Homo sapiens: one gene and its partners. The protein of the gene in region 2 interacts with the protein of the main gene of each other region in a pairwise test. Each region holds a gene or a part of one and is shown on either strand. Other genes may lie near its edges.

Region 1 (7,006 bases), on a different chromosome or scaffold from region 2:
AATTCTGTCACCTCTAAATTTTTATATTAAAGTCCTAAGCCCAATACCTCACAATTTGACCGTATTTGGAAATAGAGCCCTTAAAGAAGTGACTAAGTTAAAATAAGGCCATTGGGGTGGGCCCTAATCCAATCTGACTGGTGTCCTCAAAAGAGGAGGAAATTTGGACACACACAAGAGATCCAGGGGCACGTGTGCACAGAGGGATGACTATGTGAAGAGGCAGCAGTAGGATGGCCATGTGCAAGTCAAGAAGAGAAGCCTCAGGAGAAGTTAAAACTCTGAGAAAATAAATATTTGTTGTTTAAGCTACTCAGTCTGTGGTATTCTGTTATGGCAGCCCTAGCAAACTAATACGGATACTAAAATGATGAACAAGTCCACCATTTAATTAATCTTGAAAAATACATGGGAATATAGAAGTGGATATACTGTGGATCACGGAGCAATAAACCCAACTCATAAAATGGAGAAAATCAAACCTCTTGGTGGGAAGGTGTGTTCATAAAAAATTTGAAAAAGCCCCAAAAGTGATTATGAATTTCCTTCTCTTCTCACTTATAAACACTATCTTAGTCCTAATCATATGCAAAAGTGTGCATAAATGAGGGCAAGGTTAGGTCGCTGTTTCTCTTGGCCAGTCAACCAGTTCTATTCATACTTTTTTTTTTTCCAGTCAATGAAAGGGACACTTTATTGAGGCTCCAGGGCCATGGGGCCTGGGCAGGAGGCTGCCCTCCGAGGAAGGAAGAGCCTTATTTGACCTTCTTGGGGTGCAGGTTGTTGGTGTGGCCACACTTCTTCTTGCGGCAATTGACAGCATAGGGGTGCAGGAGAGCATAGCGCTTATGGCAGATCATCTTGTTTCAGCTGTATTTCTAGGTGAGCTGGAAGAGTGAAGGCTCAATAATGCCACCTCGCAGGTGCAGCACCAGGTGCGGGGTGGGCTGTTTCTGGACGTTGTAGTCTGAGAGAGTGCGGCCATCCTCCAGCTGTTTGCTGGCAAATATCAGACGCTGCTTGTCAGGGGGGATACCCTCCTTGTCTTGAATTTTCGCACTGACATTCTCAATGGTGTCACTGGGCTCGACCTCAAGGGTGATGGTCTTGCCCGTGAGGGTCTTCACAAAGATCTGCATCTCTGTGTCTGCAGCTCGGCTGCCTCGCTGAAGAAAAAGAGGATGGCAGATCTGTTCATACTTCTATATCAAGGTCATATACAGACAATTTCACCAACTAGAATATAAAAATATTATTACTAGTGATCTGAGTTATGTGCAACATTGGAATGGATGCCACTCATTCCCTTCTACTGACCTCCAAAATTCTATGCCAATTTACCATTAACTTTCTCTTTCTTTCTTCTCAATTATAAATTCTCCACCTTATTAAAAGACATGGCTCTGACAATTCCAAGTTTCAGCTGCCCACTATGTTCCCATCCACTTCATCTTTTAAATGTGTTTAAAGCATTAACAACAGATTGTGTTTCACCCTAGAGACAGCTGGGTTTCAAGGAGAGGTAAAATGTTTCATAATCTCACTCTATTGTCCAAGACAAATGTGCTATTGTATTACATGTGAAATGTCATCTTTGAAGTCTGGTAAGGGTGTGCTGTGAGGTGAGCCATCTGGAAAACACAGTGTAGACTGAAAAATAATTATAAGCCAGTTTATTACTTTTTTCCAGTTAAGCCTACCATGACAGCTGCTAAAAAAAACACTATGTAGTATAAAGGGTAAAAAGACTCTGAAGTCGCAAAAGTTATACCCACCTCCAACAATGATTAGCTAGTATACAAGTCACTCAAATTCTCTGATCCTTTTGGCTTGTCTGTAAAATTGAAATATGGACACATGCCACAGAGGAGTTTTATGAGTATTAAATGAAACAACAGCTGTAAAGCACTTCGTACAGAGTACACAATAAGTTTGATTTCTCTTCTCGTCTTCTAAATATAGACTATATAATATTCTTTATACAGAGAATATTAGATAAAATCCAATCATATTTGAAAACCAGGTTGAGCAGGTTGGTTTTTCAAAGAAATTCATTGAGCTTCCATAATGTCCTTTCTATTTGACGGGAGAAAAGGGGCTTTGGAAGATCAAGTGTGAAGCTTTAGAATTCTGTCTGGAGCTGGTTAGGACCACCCAGGCCTGAGTATAAGCAAAGCGCTGTCCGTGGTGCTAGTAAGCGCGAATGCCCCCGGCAACGTTTTCCCTACCCAAAGTTGTTTTTCATTCAGTCAACTTGCTTCGCGAAGCTCACACATCTGCCTCGTGCAAGATTCTCAGTCATTTTACTTAGTCATTGGTTCTTTCCCTATCACCATTCTTTATGTCCCCCTCAAAGAAAAACATTATCTTCCATTTCCTTATCAACTCCAAACAGCTTTCATTTTTCTGACATATTTACTACCTAAGAAAATGGCTCAAGAATTGGGTCAGACTATCTTGTCCTAACTTTTCTGATAAGTTTCAGAGAAACTCAAAGGTCAAAACAAGAGCATAAGAGTAAAAGGTAGAGAAATTAAGAAACTGAAGACTAGGAAATGGGGGTTGGATGGGAAAGAAAAAGAAATTGTTATTAATGCTACCCGGTTCCCTTCCCTGTCCAGGTGGATTTCAGCTCTGTTGAGGCTCTGTCAGTAGATTTTCAGCCCTAACCAGCACTTCCATGGTGGTGGCACTTCCACTGCCTTTAAAAGAAAGAGCTTTTTTTAATTCTACAGGGATTTGGGGGATGAGGAGTCAGAGCTAAGGTATCCTAAAAAAAACATGTGAAGACTCTCATTTTGCAATACACAAGCAATTGCCCTCCTGTTAAGACTTTGTCTTCCTCAGCACTCCGAACCAAAATGATTCTGTAAACAAAAATTGTTCACTTTTAGGAGAGGTCCACTTATGCAGTTCCTCACCAAAGTTTTTAGGCAACAAATCCATAACTTGCGGTTCTCTTCCTATCCAATGTAGCATCCGCTGAAATGTTTTAAATATTTTAAGTAATAAATGTTGATTCAAACTCACCTAGGAAGATTAGGAAGGGGAAAAAAAGCACTTGGCATTTAAATCTTCAGAAGAGAATTTAATGACAGGTTCAGCCTGTTTAATGACAAGCCCAGCACCACACCCCTCTCTTATGATGTTTCATTATTACTGCATAAATTTCCTTTATTACTCATGATAAATAAAAATAAGATACCTGACAAAGTGGGTTTAAATAGGTAAGAGTGCAAACAAAGATTTACTGTACAAATATGATGAAACTGGGATCTCAGATTCTTAAAGTATAATTTTTTTTTGTCTTATGTGTGCCAGGTTGCCACTCTCAATCTCGAACTAGTTTTTTTCTCTTTTAAGGGTTGTATCCATAATGCAAAAATGGAAAGAATTAAAAAGCACACGCAAAACATGATTCTCGGGATTTTTCTCTATTTTTATGGTTGACTAATTCAAACAGAAAGACACATCCAAGAGAAAATTGCTAAGTTTGATACAAGTTATGAAACTTGTGAAGCCCAAGTACTGCCTGGGGATGAATTTAACTTGTATGACAGGTGCAGAGCTGTCGCTTTCAGACATCTTAAGAAACACGGAGTTATTTTGAATGACTTTCTCTCGGTCACAAGGGAGCCACCAACGTCTCCACAGTGAAACCAACTGGCTGGCTGAAGGAACAGAAATCCTCTGCTCCGCCTACTGGGGATTAGGAGCTGAGGGCAGTGGTGAACATTCCCAAAATATTAGCCTTGGCTTTACTGGACATCCAGCGAGCAGTGCAGCCAGCATTCCTGGCGGCTCCCTGGCCCAGTCTCTGGCGCATGCGTCCTAGCATCTTTGGGCAGGCTTCCCCGCCCTCGTGACGCGTCGGCCCGGGCCTGGCCTCCCGGCGATCACAGCGGACAGGGGGCGGAGCCTAAGGGGGTGGGGAGACGCCGGCCCCTTGGCCCAGCTGAAAACGGAATTCTTTGCCGGCTGGCTCCCCACTCTGCCAGAGCGAGGCGGGGCAGTGAGGACTCCGCGACGCGTCCGCACCCTGCGGCCAGAGCGGCTTTGAGCTCGGCTGCGTCCGCGCTAGGCGCTTTTTCCCAGAAGCAATCCAGGCGCGCCCGCTGGTTCTTGAGCGCCAGGAAAAGCCCGGAGCTAACGACCGGCCGCTCGGCCACTGCACGGGGCCCCAAGCCGCAGAAGGACGACGGGAGGGTAATGAAGCTGAGCCCAGGTCTCCTAGGAAGGAGAGAGTGCGCCGGAGCAGCGTGGGAAAGAAGGGAAGAGTGTCGTTAAGTTTACGGCCAACGGTGGATTATCCGGGCCGCTGCGCGTCTGGGGGCTGCGGAATGCGCGAGGAGAACAAGGGCATGCCCAGTGGGGGCGGCAGCGATGAGGGTCTGGCCAGCGCCGCGGCGCGGGGACTAGTGGAGAAGGTGCGACAGCTCCTGGAAGCCGGCGCGGATCCCAACGGAGTCAACCGTTTCGGGAGGCGCGCGATCCAGGTAGCTGGGGCCCCAGGGCCTCGCCGGCAGGGGGCGCGCGAACGCGGGGCGCGGCCTCGGCGGATCGGGGCTGGAACCTAGATCGCCGATGTAGATTTGTACAGGAGTCTCCGTTGGCCGGAGGTGTGCATTCCACGCGTAAAACAGGCTTTTACCCAGCAAAAATCCTAAAGAGAGACATTGAAAAACCCACTGTTTAAGCTTTTTTTAGTGGTTTTTGTTCTGCCATCTCATGATCAGAGATGCAAGGAATAGACTGAATTGGGGAGAAAAGGAGAAAAGGAAAGCTTATTTAGGGAAGAAGATTATCTTGTCTGTCTGCTTTCAACGATAAAGATAAGTAAAGTATAAGTTACGCATTCTAGATTGGATTTAAGGAATTCTACAAAATCATAGTACATGGAAAAAATCAATGTAAACTTCTAAGCTACTATATGAAATCTGTTGTATTGTTTTCTCATAGAGGTTAATTGAGAATGAGACGGGATTCCTCAACCACAGTACTTAGTTCCTTTTATGTTAGCAGTGTCTTATGAGTGATGCATAAGAGAAAAAATATATAGTTCTATAGGTTTCTCATTCTTTAATTATCATACTCAGTGCCCAGATTACAAAAATATTCCTGCAGCAACTGTTAGGTCCTTTTTGAATGGCAAAGGATCTTCATAAATAATGCATCTTTATCTTCATTGTTAAAATACACTTATTCAATGTTTAAGTACGAATCCTGCTTTAATTAGTACTGATATTTTTTATTTCTTTTACAATCTCGGACAACTCTTTTGTACTTTACCGTTGGCTAGTGGTCATATTCAGTACTCACCTCACTATCACCCTCTAAAACTAAGCTAATATTAAGGGATCTTGTTAATAGTATAGATTTTAAAGAAGTGTTCATTTCTTTTGAATTCTTAGAATAATGGTATAACAAATGAGGGATTTTTAAAGGAGCAAAAATATTGTAAAGTGCATCTTAAAAACTTAAAATTTTATTAATAATTATAAAAACAAGTTATATATGTAATTCACCATTTTCTGAAATACTAACAGCAGCTATTTTCCCCTTTTTTTCTATGTAAAATATCCTTACATCACTAGTAGATATAACTTATCACGGTTTTTAAGAGATGAAATGAACATTTCTAATATTAATGAAACAAGCCAACAAAACATGAGAAGTATACTGCCTTTCAATTAAATGGTATATTTTAAAGTGCATAAACCCATAACAAATAACTCGATTTTAGACATTTAGTTACCAAAAATTGTCTTATAATTGACTTTAAATATGACAGCAAATGTTTTCATAATGTTCATGTACACAAATGGCTGCTACAGGATTACTCCTGCAAAACATCATTTTTTCTAAGTTATGCATCATCCTGATTGACTGCTAACATCCAAGCTCTATTTATTTATTTATTTATTTTATTTTTTTTGAGATGAGGCCTCACTCTGTCGGACAGGCTGGAGTGCAGTGGCACAATCTCAGCTCACTGCAACCTCTTCCAGGATGCAAGCGATTCTCCTGCCTCAGCCTCCTGAGTTGCTGGGACTACAGGCACGCCCCACCATGCCCAGCTAATTTTTTATTTTTTGTAGTAGAGACGGGATTTCACCATGTTGGCCAGGCTGGTCTCGAACTCCTGACCTCAGGTGATCTGCCTGCTATGGCCTCCCAAAGTGCTGGGATTACAGGCATAAGCCACTGGGCCTGGCCCAAGCTCTTTTTATATAGCAAAATATTTACTGTTTAACATTTTTAAATCTTAGCTATTATAAAATCCTGTAGTATACAAATATAGTTAGTTTTATATTACATTAAAAATATTATAGTCTAAATTTAAAATGATGAACTGTTAAGGAAAAATCATTTATTATAATTTTATAAGATTTTGCATGATTTAATTTACTTTTCCCTTCTAATCTCCAACTTTGGCTCAAATTATCACACTACAAGCCAGTTATGAGCTCAGACACATGACAAACAAAAGCCTTCCGCACGGGATTTGCTATGAGAACTAAATAAATTAAAAAAAAAAGAAAGAAAAAAACTTAGTTGTTTATTTTCTCCCCTAAACCATTACTCCCAACTTCTAACAAACAGTAGTTGACTACCTAATAAATATTTGTAGACCTGGATTATGGAGGAGGGGTCAGCAAGGCAAATAATTTAAAACTTTAAAAGCCGAATAAATTTAACTCTGCCCCTAAATCATTTAACAAAATAGATTCCCATGTTCCAATGGAAATCAAGATTTGTTTTTCCATAATGATGATCATCACTTTACCATCAACTTTCTTGTCTCTGCACGTTTAGAGAATAAAATGGCATTTAATTTGTACTGAGTATAACCTGAAGGTGGGGTGGGAAAGTGGATTGCATCAGCAAATGAAGAAACACCAGACATCAGAGACCTGAACACCTCTGCACTGGGTGAAAACTTTGCAATTAGGTGTTTCTTTAAATGGCTCCACCTGCCTTGCCCCGGCCGGCATCTCCCATACCT
Region 2 (5,089 bases):
AAAGGGGCATCCACATGGATAAAAGGCCCAGATTAAATGGGGCAGGATGATATTTTGAGATATCTGACTTTGTTCTTTCTGCTCTGGAATTTCATTCCCTGGCCCTGCCCCCTGCCTGCGGCAGCCAAGTTCATTGCCAGGAGAGGGAAGTGACAGAGCAGAAATCGGGAACAAAGGACTGTGGAAGAAAAAAAAATTACAGGTAAGTCATCTAAAAAGCAATAAAGTAACAGTAATATGAATAATGATTGTGTATACATATTTTCAAAACAACATCCTGATAAATCTCATTCTGATTCTGAAATTTAGGTGAGAGACTGGAATGTAGGCAGAACTAGGAACAAGGACAAACAGAACTTCTTATCACTGCAAAAAGGCTACTACCTAGAAGTGTTCAAGCCCAAGTTTTTCAAGCATAATGTTAACTAACCAAGGGCAGAGATACCCAAATGGATCCATCCCATCTACAATTAAACTAAGGACAGAATCACTTGAGCTCCTTCCAAAGAATGTTAAGTAAACAGATTTTATTCAATCTTTCCTAGAGTTTATAATGAACATTTGTTATTTAATATGGTAGTTATATTACAGTTTTACCTTACGAGCGATAGAACATTTGGTGAATAAGATTAACAAACCGGAAATGATGATACCCTCGAAGACACTCTCTGGAAGCACACCAGTCCCACTGACTCATGTTACAAATTTAAGTTGGCATCCAGCTGATTTGTAGAATGTGTTATCCTGATGTTTCTGCAATTATACCACCTGAAGAGGGTCCCTGTCAGTCTCTGATAGGATAATATTTATCTTATTCTCCAAGTGAGAATCCAGCATATCTCGAAGGTCAGAAAGAAAGCCTCGTTCAGTGTTGCTGTGTTCACAGAGGATGACATTTATTCCTTGGGAAGCAGCATCCAAAGTATCATGATGGGACATCTCACCTACCAAAAAGGGAAGAGCAAATTCTTAAATGCTAAATATGGAATCTGTGGAATGAGGAAACACAAAAGCAGAAATACCAAGTTTGTAGTCTATATGAAGTGAATGTAATAGAGCAGAACTGTTTTACATATAAATCTAGAAAGTAGTGTACAGTTTTCTTTTATGTCCTCCAACTTAAAAAGAGAGAAAAGTCTGGGCGCGGTGGCTCACGCCTGTAATCCCAGCACTTTGGGAGGCCTAGGCAGGCAGATCACCTGAGCTAAGGAGTGCTAGACTAGCCTGGCCAACATGGTGAAACTTCCATCTCTACTAAAAACACAAAAATTAGCTGGGCGTGGTGGTGCGTGCCTGTAATCCCAGCTACTCAGGAGGCTGAGACAGGTGAATAGCTTCAGTCCAGGGCCTGGAGGTTGCAGTGAGCCGAGACTGCACCACTGCACTTCAGCCTGGGTGACAGAGTAAGACTATCTTGAAAATATAAAAATAAAATCCATCCCACTGAGAATTCCAACTTCTTTTTCCTTAGCAGACCCCAAGGCAATTATCCAATCCAACATATCTGGCCAGAACCAGATCTGTAAACACCCATTCAAAGTGTTTCCACGGTAAAATGAATGATCACTGCCAAGTAAAATGAGGCCTTCAGAAAATTTGCCTCTTATGTAAGTAATAAATACCTCTGGAGGAAATTATATGTATACTGCCCAGCAGACTTATGCTTTGTAAGCACCAGTATTTCTGTCGTCAACTTAGTCTAATATATAAGGATGAAATGAATTTAAGATTACTTCCAGGTTAAAAACAAAGTATTTTTCTTTGACTTAAGCAAAATCCCTAGAAACTCTGGAGGGAATCTCATCTGTTGTGAAAAGATTTGGGGAAAATTCATATTCTGAATTTTTAATTTATATTGTTAATTTTTTTTTAGATGGAGTTTTGCTCTGTCACCCAGGCTGGAGTACAGTAGCACGATCTCAGCTCACTGCAACCTCTGCCTCCTGGGTTCAAGTGATTCTCCTGCCTCAGCCTCTCGAGTAGCTGGAATGACAGGCACCCACCACCATGCCTGGCTAATTTTTGTATTTTTAGTAGAGATGGGGTTTCACCACGTTGGCCAGGCTGGTCTCGAACTGCTGGGCTCAAGTGATCTGCCCGCCTCAGCCTCCCAAAGTGCTGGGATTACAGGCGTGAGCCACCATGTCCAGCCTAATATTCTGAATTTCTTAAAATGCAGTTTGTGAATTTGATGACTTCTAATTTAAGAGCAAAACTGTACTGTGTACAATTAGGTTTGTTCTTTAAAAAGTACAATTTTGAACTGTATTTAGAGACAGAAGGGCATATAAATTTAAGAAAAAAGGGTTCTTGGAAAAAAATGAGTTCTCTTTTAATTTTCCCATAAGAAAACACCTATAAGTAAAAAAATGAGTTTTCTTAATTCCAGAATTTTTTAGTTCCCCACAATCTCCTCCTAATAAGTGTCATCTCATTATAAGGAACAGTTTTTATTCAAGCACCTTTTAAAACATCTTAATCTATAATAGTAGAAGTAAAAAGCAAGAAAAAGACACTAAGATGGCCCAGTTGGAAGCCTTGTTTTAGGAAAGGTAAGTCTGGCTGCCTGTACTGTGACAAATTCATTGGCTGGAGAAGGCATGAAAGGGGGGAAATCAGTGAAGACCCTGCAATAATAGCTGAAGCCAATGGAAAGAAAAGCTTGGCCCAGGATGGCAGCTTGGGAAAGAATAAGCAAATGGAGAATGAAAAGACAAATGGGAGAACTTAATTTACAAGGAGCAGGCTCCCCATCTGCTGGTCTTACGGGGTATTACCCTTAACAACCTAATACAATGAGAACACGGCCTCAGGCTCACAGGAAGCGTGATGAAGTTCAGCAGAGGTCCTTTAGGTGGGGCTTCACATCTCTGAAGTTATACTCAAAAGTGATGCCTCACAGACCAGAGACAGCTAATGCTAGCCGGATAATATATTTTCTATTTCTCCCCACAGCCAGATAGGAAGGACATTTTAACATTTTGGAACTGCTTGAATTTATCTTATGCACGTATCATTATACTTTATCATTGTTTTAAAAAACTAGTTTTTAAAAAAGTATAAGGAAACAGATACCCCAAATTGAGAGAGAAGCACAAAACAAAGAGCCTATACTCTTTAAAAATGTCAATGCTATGGAGACAAAGCTGAGAAACTATTCCAGACTGAAGGAGACTAACAACAACTAAATGCAATGTGAGATCATTGGCTGGATATGGATCAGAAAAAGAAATGCTATAAGCTTTTATCAATTGGGAAAATGTGAATATGGACTGTATATCAAGTAAGTGTTTTAACAATATTAAATTCCCATGTTTGATAATTGTTCCATGGACTTAGAATGTCTTTGTTCTTAGACTATACACTGAAGTATTGAGAGGTAAAGAAATTGTCATGTCTGCAATTGATTACAAAATGGTCCTAGGGGAAATACATCAATATATATATAGAACATATTTTAACTTGTATATATTATGTATCTATACATGCAAACACAAATGTGTATAGACACATATATAATATGCACATAGGGAATGTACAAATATGGCAGAATATAACCATAGTAACCAAGGTGAAGAGCATATAGGAGTTCAGTATACTATTCTTGCAACTTTTGCATAGGTCTGAAATTCCTAAGTAAAATGCTAAAATGAATTTTAAAATAGCCAGACACAATACTGTAAGATATTCATATTGAAATTTCACTTTAATCTGGTAGAAATTTAAGGGCTTACAAAAATCTTTTATCTTCAGAAAATATAAAATAAGTAATAGTCACATACATGTTTTGTTTTTTTAAATCAATTTATTGGTTTAGAGCAATTCCATCAGGCTTGCTCAGATGCTGCTCCTCGGTACTTCAGGATGTGACAATGCTTTGAGTGCAGCAGCCTTTGTAAGAGAGTGTGCTATATAACAAAGTGTGGGTGTGGGAGGCAAGGGAAGCATGGAAGTAGCCAAAGGAATGGCCAGAGGGCTAAGAGCCTAGAGCCTGGTCCTCAAAGTGGGAAAAGTAATTCTTTAACTCATTCTCTCCTAACCCTAAGAAGGAGGAGGTAAACAAAGTGGCAACCCCTTAAAATGCCTCCAAATCCTTTGGAGGTGTAAGGGGCCATGTTTGGCCATATTCCTGAGTAGTAACTACATAAAGTAATTCTTTCAATAAAAATTAGCCAGGACCTATTAGGTAGTATCCTAAATGAGAAAGTATAAGGCCCAGCAGCCAGACAATTACTATCCAACAGAAGTGCACATTGGAGGTCAAGGACAAAGTGATAGGGACCCACAAGAGGCAGGAGCAGGACAGTGTCAGAGAAGGCTTCTCAGAGGGGGTGTTCACTTATCACTAGGAGTACAAGGAAAAGGCATTCTAGCCAGAGAAAACAGCATAAGCAAAGGGTACAGGAAAGGGGATGCAATGTTCAGGCTCCACCAGACAGATGAAGGAAATCACTGAAGTCTTTTTAATCAAGACCATCAAATTTGCACTTTGAAAAGTTAATTTCAGGAGAGTATATGGAAGATACCATTAGAGGGTTGATGCTGTACTTCAAGTAGGAGATGGTGCCTGGATAGAGATAAGGGGGAAGATTCTAGAAAGATTTGGGAGCTTGAATTGATAGGAATTGATGATTGGCTTTAGGCTGAGTAAAAGGAACCATTTCCTAGCTAAGGTGACAGGGTAGAAAGTATCCCACTGATGTGAAATCTGAGAGGTTTGGGACAGTTTAGGAAGAATGTAGGTAAAATAAATGCTGACCATTAACTTTTGAGATAATGTAATAAACTGTTCAATGATTTCATCCCTCCACAAAGAATGCAGTAAGTCCCCAGTTCTGTTGTAGTTTCTGTTTAGTTCAGGTTCAGAAAACATTAATTAGGTATCATCTATGTGCCAGGTACTGTCCTAAAATTTGCCATTTTTGATTTTGCAAAAAATAAACCAAGAGAGATCCAAAGTCTGTCCTACCTGTGAGGTAAAGGTCAGCCTCAACACCCTGCAGAACGCTGCTCCCAGAACCAGCACACAGGGCCACGACTTTGACTTGAGACTCTTCAAAACAGAGGAAACAAGAGACCAATACTTTAC
Region 3 (7,034 bases), on a different chromosome or scaffold from region 2:
TTCACTGCCGTGCTATTCACAATAGCAAAGATGTGGAATCAGTCTAGGTGCTCCATCAATGGTGGGCTGGATAAAGAAAATATGGTGTATATACACCATGGAATACTACGCAGCCAGGAAAATACTGAAATCCTGTCCTTTGCAGCAATATGGATGCAGCTGGAGGCCATAATCCTAAGCAAATTAATGCAGGAACAGAAAACCAAATACTACTTATTCTCACTAGTAAGTGGGAGCTTAAATATTGGGTACAGATGGACATAAAAATAGGAACAGTAGATACTGTTGACTGCTAGAGAGGGGAGGGAAATAGAGTGAAAAACTACTTATTGGGTACTATGCTCACTTCCTGGGTGACAACATCTGTACCCGAAATCTCAGCATCATGCAATATACCCATGTAACAAACCTGCAAATGTATTCCCTGAACCTAAAATAAACAAATGAAATTATAAAAAAGAGGTAACTGGTCTAAAAAATTAAGTTGGGAACACTCATTCTATTTTATAAAATGAGATGTTGCCCAACTAAAAATTTCTTAATGAAAAAATTAGGATTTGGAATACTTTGTGTTAAAATAGAATACTTTGGGCCAGTCGCAGTGGCTCACACCTGTAATCCTAGCACTTTGGGAGGCCAAGGCGGGTGGATTGCTTGAGGTCAGGAGTTTGAAACTAGCCTGGCCAACATGGTGAAACCCAGTTTCTACGAAAAAAAATTTTTTTTAATTAGATGGGCATGGTGGCAGGCGCCTGTAATCCCAGCTGTTTGAGAGGCTGAGGCAGGAGAATCACTTGAACCCAGGAGGTGGAGGTTGCAGTGAGCCAAGATCCCACCATTGCACTCCAGTCTGGGCAACAAGAGTGAAACTCCATCTCAAAAAAAAATAAAAATAAAAATAAATAAAATACTTTGTAGTCATTAAAAATAATAAAATAGAGGTATCTGTGCTGATAAGAATAATCTCTAAGATTTATTATAGGAAAAAATCAAGGGGGTGTTTGTATACATGTATTTATTTATTTATACATATGTATGCATTTCCATTTAATGTTTTTAAAAAGTGGTCCAGGTACAGTGGCTCACACCTGTAATCCCAGCACTTTGGGAGGCCAAGGCGGGCGGATTGCTTGACCCCAGGAGTTCAAGACCAGCTTGGGCAACATGACAAAATCTAATCTCTACAAAAAAGAAAAAAAAAACAAAAGCTAGACGTTGTGGTGCATGCTACTTGGGAGGTTGAGGTAAGAGTATCAATTGAGTCTGCACAATCGAGGCTGCAGTGAGCTGAGATCACACCATTGCACTCCAGCCTGGGTGACACAGCGAGACCCTGTCTCAAAAAAATGAAATTAAAAATTAAAAATGTATATGCTTGCACATGCATAGAATATTTCCGGGATGATGCTGAAAAGTACTAGGGAGAAGGACTGGACATGCCTAAGATAGGAGAAATGCTCTTTACTTATATCGTATTTGAATTTTTTGCCACATGTAAAGTATTCCTTTCAATTAAAACACCTAATTATATTTAAAATCTCAATGACTATGAGACTGTGGATATTAATATGTGTAAATATACAAACATTAATCTGCATACACATTTACCTGAAAGACGTAATATGCAATCATTTGAGAACTATTTTATCACGTGTGTATGAAAACACAAACACTTGAAACAGTGTACTCTGCTAAAGCAGTATATACATATACATACTTTTAATATGTTGTGCACATGTATATGTTATTTGTAACCCTCCCATCTGACGGAAAATAAATGTCAGCCTCCATCAAGGGATAATTTCATAGGCTTCACAATTTAAATCTATGATGTTAATCTTCACTTAAATGTTGGAACCTGAAAAAAATGCTTTTGACTTCTTACATTTAGACAACCCCACTAAATTATTCTTTCTATGCCTCCTCTTTAAATGCACTAATACTTCCTGATATCTGATTTTTACCCTAGGCAAATAGTTTAAACTATCAAATAATCATAAATGACCCCTTTAAAAAAAAAAAACGGACAATTAAGAGTTAAGAGGCTGGGCCGGGCTTGGTGGCTCAAGCCTGTAATCCCAGGACTTTGGGAGGCCAAGGCGGGCGGATCACGAGGTCAGGAGATCGAGCCCATCCTGGCTAACATGGAGAAACCCCGTCTCTACTAAAAATACAAAAAATTAGCCGGGCGTGGTGGTGGGCGCCTGTGGTCCCAGCTACTCGGGAGGCTGAGGCAGGAGAATGGCGTGAACCCGGGAGGCGGAGCTTGCAGTGAGCTGAGATCGTGCCACTGCACACCAGCCTGGGCGACAGAGCAAGGCTCCATCTCAAAAAAAAAAAAAAAAAAAAAAAGTTAAGGGGCTGGCTCTTTCAAAAAATCCTTCTCAACTAAAGTTATGTTTGCCTAGTCACTCTAAATCAAAGAATAAAAATCGTTAATATTTGTAGATGTGCTACTATGTGCCAATGACTGTTTTAAGCTCTGTATGTGGATTACCTCATTTTAAACAACGCTATGAGGTATATCTCCATTCTACAGATAAAGAAACTGAGGCATACGGGGCCTAACTGGGGAGCCAAAATTCAAATCCACAGACCAGTGACTCCGGAGCCTCCTGAGAATATCTTCAACAATTCAAAAACTCCTCCACTTACAAGATTGTTTTGACATACCTGTGAACAGCCCCGCTCCTCAGAGTGATTTTTTCTGTGACCATTTGTAGTACATGATCCCACTGATTCAAGGTTTTTCTGGGGATAAGGAGGCGAGAAGCTGGGTTTATGAGGTCTCCATTTGCAATCAAGCTGGAAAACAGGGGGCAAACCTTCTGAAACAGTTATGCCTTGAAAACTACAACACAAATTCCAAACCAAAAGGAAACCACCAAGCCAATTTTAACTTGAAGTATAAAGGGTTTCAACTTACAAGATAGTGCACGGCTCCTGAAGCGGTTTTCTAAAGCGAGCTGACACGTTGATCCTGCTATGGATTACTGGTTTTACCTTTAAAAGCAAAGGAAAAAAAATATAAACCACTAAGCTTATATTAGCTTTTTTTTTCCTATGAGGAAAATCTACAGTTTCTAGGGAACTGCCTGAGACTTCCTGTGCCTTTGTTAAAACCTTGCTTTTCTCAGCATTTCTGTAAACTCTGAGCTCACCCTTTAGCAATATTATAAGCCCTTAACAAAGCTCTCAAGAAAAGAAAGGAAAATTTCCCTTAAGCCCTAGGCACACTGCTCATGATCTGTGGAAAAAAAAAAAAAACAGAAATCATTTTCTGTTACGAAAATATTAAGATAATTTTTAAACAATGCATTCTGAAAAACAACAAAATAATCCTATAAAATCTTGAGCTCTGAAGTGCTGTGCCTGCAGCCCAACATACTGTGTTCCATCATCTTTCCTTTCCCATTCCCATGCACCTGCTTTCTGATCCTTGGCCCCCACCAAGTGCCTGACCCCACCCTTTTCTCTTAAGACTGACACAAGCAATTTTTCCCAGGTTTCACTTTCTCCCCTATCCCCCATTGAATCAGGTACACTCACGCCAGCACCCTCAATTCCCGCAGCCCTTGCCACTGGGTAGATGTGATCACCTTTGCCTCTCTTTTTGCTTCCAGGGTCCCAGCTGCTATTAGAGAGAACCACGGGGCCCCATGAGCAGCCCTCACCTGAGACCAGCTTTCAGCATCAAGCCATCACCTGGACCTCAGTATAGCTTGCTCAGCCAGCCCTCCACTCCTCCCACAGTTCTTTTTTCCATTTCCCACAGTGGATAGTCCAAATCCTCACCTCTCATCTCACCTCACCCCTCACCTAACCCTTAAAATCCCACTCCAGGCACACACACTCTCAGCAGGTCATTTCATTCCAAATGTCAAGAAATAGAAGCCAGTAGACACGAAGCCCCTCAACTTTCCTTCCCTCCACAACTCACCTCATCTAGATCCTCACCATTTTTCTCCTTTTCTGCCTGTCTCAGAAGGAACTATATGCCTTTAGGAAGCTAACCCCACATCTTGATTTTGTCCCCGGCTGTCTCTGCTTGTTCATTCATTTAAGACCTCCATCTCTACCTGGTGCCTTTAATTTTCCCCTTGACCTTATGGCCGCTCTCAAGTACAGCTGCCATCTCTCTCTTCATTATTCCTATTCCGACTTCCTCCCTATCCTCTCTTCAGGCTTCTGCCGTCTGGTGTCCACCTTTAATACTGGAAGATAAATCCCGACTTTCAAGCATGGCCTGCAAGAACTCCCAGGGCCAAGTGCCGCTTACTTGGTGCCCTCATCTCCTACCAACACTCCTTCCACACAGACTCCTCGTCACGCACTGTAGTTGAACCAGCCTGCTCCCCTCCATTCCCAAAACATCCCCTGCATCCACACCTTGCCTTTGCCCCTCTGGCTAAAACGCCCTCCTCATTTCTCCACCTACTGGAATTCCATCTGCTCTTCAAGGCCCAGCTCAGTTATCACCAATCATTCCCTGCTCATTCTTCTTGCGCTTTCTGTCTCAAACTGCTACAGCTACTATAGTATTGATTCTTGCACTTTGAGTTTTAGGTGATTTTACCCCATGATTTGAAAGGAAAACTTACAAACAACACTAATTTATAAAAATAGGTAACAGTTGTGCTATATTTCATGGCAAGCACCGTACTAAGTAATTTATATGCATTATATATTTTCTAATCATCAAAACAGTGTCCTGAAGTGGCATTACTATAGTCCCAATTTACTAAAGAAACTGGAGCTTGATTAATTAATTGGCCTAAAATCACACATAATAAGTGGTAGAGTTTTAGTGAACCTATGTCTATGAGCCCCTACTATTTGCTACGCACTTTGCTAGTTATCTTAAAAATCAAATAGTAGCCCTAGATCATTTATGGGACTCCATTCTTGGTAGAATTATGCCATCTCTGAGAGAAACAAGAATGAATATTTTTTCTGTGACTCTCAAGTGCCTAAAACAGTGCTTGGCAATGCCTACGAGTTGCACAATAAATGTTTGTTAAAATGTCATACTCTAGAGTACAATTTTTAAAATTTAATCATAGTAACTTTTTTTCATTTTAAGCACACAGGTTCTTAGCCCTACACTAACACCTAGCATCACATTAAGTGACGCTGACTTTTTAAAAAATGTTTAACAGGGCTGGGTGTGTTGGCTCACGCCTGTAATCCCAACACTTTGGGAGGCTGAGGCAGGTGGATCTCCTAAGGTCAGGAGTTGGAGACCAGCCTGGCCAACATGGTGAAACCCTATCTCTACTGAAAATACAAAACTTAGCTGAGTGTGGTGGTGTGCACCTGTAGTTCCAGCTACTCAGGAGGCTGAAGCATGAGAATTGCTTGAAACCGGGAGGCAGAGGTTGCAATGATCTGAGATGGCACCATTGCACTCCAGCCTGGGCAACAAAGCGAGACTCTGTCTCAAAAGAAAAAATAAAATAAAATGTTTAGCAGGTAATGCACGCACCTGAACAAAATTCAAGTGGTTAAAGGGGGTGTACAGTAAAAAAGAAGTGTCCTTCCCACTCCTATGCCCTAATCACCAAGCTGCAACCAGAGTTAGAAATATTCCTTCAAAGATAGTCTGTACATACACATGCATATTATCTTATGTACATAGCACATACATACAATTTTTAAATGCGCTGATGGCCTGCTTTACCAATTCTTCAGCACCTTGCTTTTTTAATTTAATAATTTATCATGGAGATTGTTTCAAATGGGTACTTACAAGTGAGGGTTATATCATTTTTTTTCCCTTTTAGAGACAGGGTGTTGCTCTGTCACCCAGGCTAGAGTACAGTGGTGCGATCACAGCTCACTGTAACCTCAAATTCCTGGGCTTAAGCATTCCTCCTTAGTGCCTTAGCTAGCAATGCACTAAGCACATACAGAGGATGCTCTGCTGTTATCTCTTCAATATGTGACTCTCTAACCATACCCATTCTTGATGGTTTAAAATCTTGTTGGGTTATTGAATTAAAGGCAAAAGTTAATATGTTATATCAATAAGTAACTTTAAAAATCTTGTTGCATTGTCTAAAACATGCTGTTTTGCTTTAGAGCACAGATAGCTATAAACAATATATTGAAATTCATAAAAATACATGATTGTTGAAATAATTATGTAATTTGATTCTGAGTATGTAAATTATTACTTGAATTCAATCAAACCATCTGTTTTAAATAATAATTGTTTTCCTCATTCGGCATGGCAAAAGTGTTCCCCAAATGTTCATGATTAACCAGTTGAATTGAAAACTAATCTTAAAGTTATATTTCCTTGAGTTACATAATTAAAATAACTAAATTACTGTTTTCAGATACACTAAAAATCTGAAAAACTACTCAAAGTAGTATACCTGAATTGTAAAAGAAACAAAAAGATAATTATAAAAAATGATTCATACTTTTTAAAAACAATACCAGTTTTTATATAAAATGCATTTTTAGCAGGCATTTTAAGTAATAAACAACACACAAAAAAATTAAACCAAATCAACTGGGTATAAGAGGAACTTCTCCAGAGCCCTAATCGGGGATAAAGGGTTGGTCAGTTGGTGGTACTCTAGGGACATGATGGCTTTAGATGATGGGGAACATAATGATAAATTAGAATTTTTAAATCAATTTTCTTATTAGCCCATACACTTCCCCTTGCACTGTAAACATAAATGCCACTTCAGGCCAGGTGCAGTGGCTTACACCTATAATCCCAGCACTTTGGGAGGCCAAGGGGGGGTGGATCACCTGAGGTCAGGAGTTCGAGACCAGCCATGGCCAACATGGTGAAACCCCATCTCTACTAAAAATACAAAAATTATCTGGGCGTGGTGGTATGCACCTGTAATTCCAACTACTTGGAAGCTGAGGGATGAGAATCACTTGAACCCAGAAGGCAGTGGTTGCAGTGAGCCAAGATTGCACCACTGCACTTCAGCCTGGGCAACAAGAGCAAAACTCTGTCTCAAAAAAAAAAGAAAGGAAAGAAAAGAAATGCTACTTGAAATATGAGG

Evidence for each region. Proteins that work in one complex are often made in the same cells at the same time.
Region 1: the proteins of NIF3L1 (region 2) and CDKN2B interact in binary tests that used the Homo sapiens proteins (3 or more experiments, as listed by UniProt).
Region 3: the proteins of NIF3L1 (region 2) and DCDC2 interact in binary tests that used the Homo sapiens proteins (3 or more experiments, as listed by UniProt).

Annotation. Positions count from the first base shown.
Region 1 is NC_000009.12:22,006,288-22,013,293, reverse strand, and holds the start of CDKN2B (cyclin-dependent kinase 4 inhibitor B), read left to right. Parts: upstream 1-3,988; 5' UTR 3,989-4,340; coding exon 4,341-4,496; coding exon of another isoform or gene 4,497-4,577; exon of another isoform or gene 4,578-4,619; intron 4,620-7,006. UniProt on the Homo sapiens protein: Interacts strongly with CDK4 and CDK6. Potent inhibitor. Potential effector of TGF-beta induced cell cycle arrest.
Region 2 is NC_000002.12:200,899,349-200,904,437, reverse strand, and holds the end of NIF3L1 (NIF3-like protein 1), read right to left. Parts: intron 5,054-5,089; coding exon 4,970-5,053; intron 945-4,969; coding exon 760-944; 3' UTR 513-759; downstream 1-512. UniProt on the Homo sapiens protein: May function as a transcriptional corepressor through its interaction with COPS2, negatively regulating the expression of genes involved in neuronal differentiation.
Region 3 is NC_000006.12:24,299,042-24,306,075, forward strand, and holds part of DCDC2 (doublecortin domain-containing protein 2), read right to left. Parts: intron 3,004-7,034; coding exon 2,927-3,003; intron 2,806-2,926; coding exon 2,674-2,805; intron 1-2,673. UniProt on the Homo sapiens protein: Protein that plays a role in the inhibition of canonical Wnt signaling pathway. May be involved in neuronal migration during development of the cerebral neocortex. Involved in the control of ciliogenesis and ciliary length.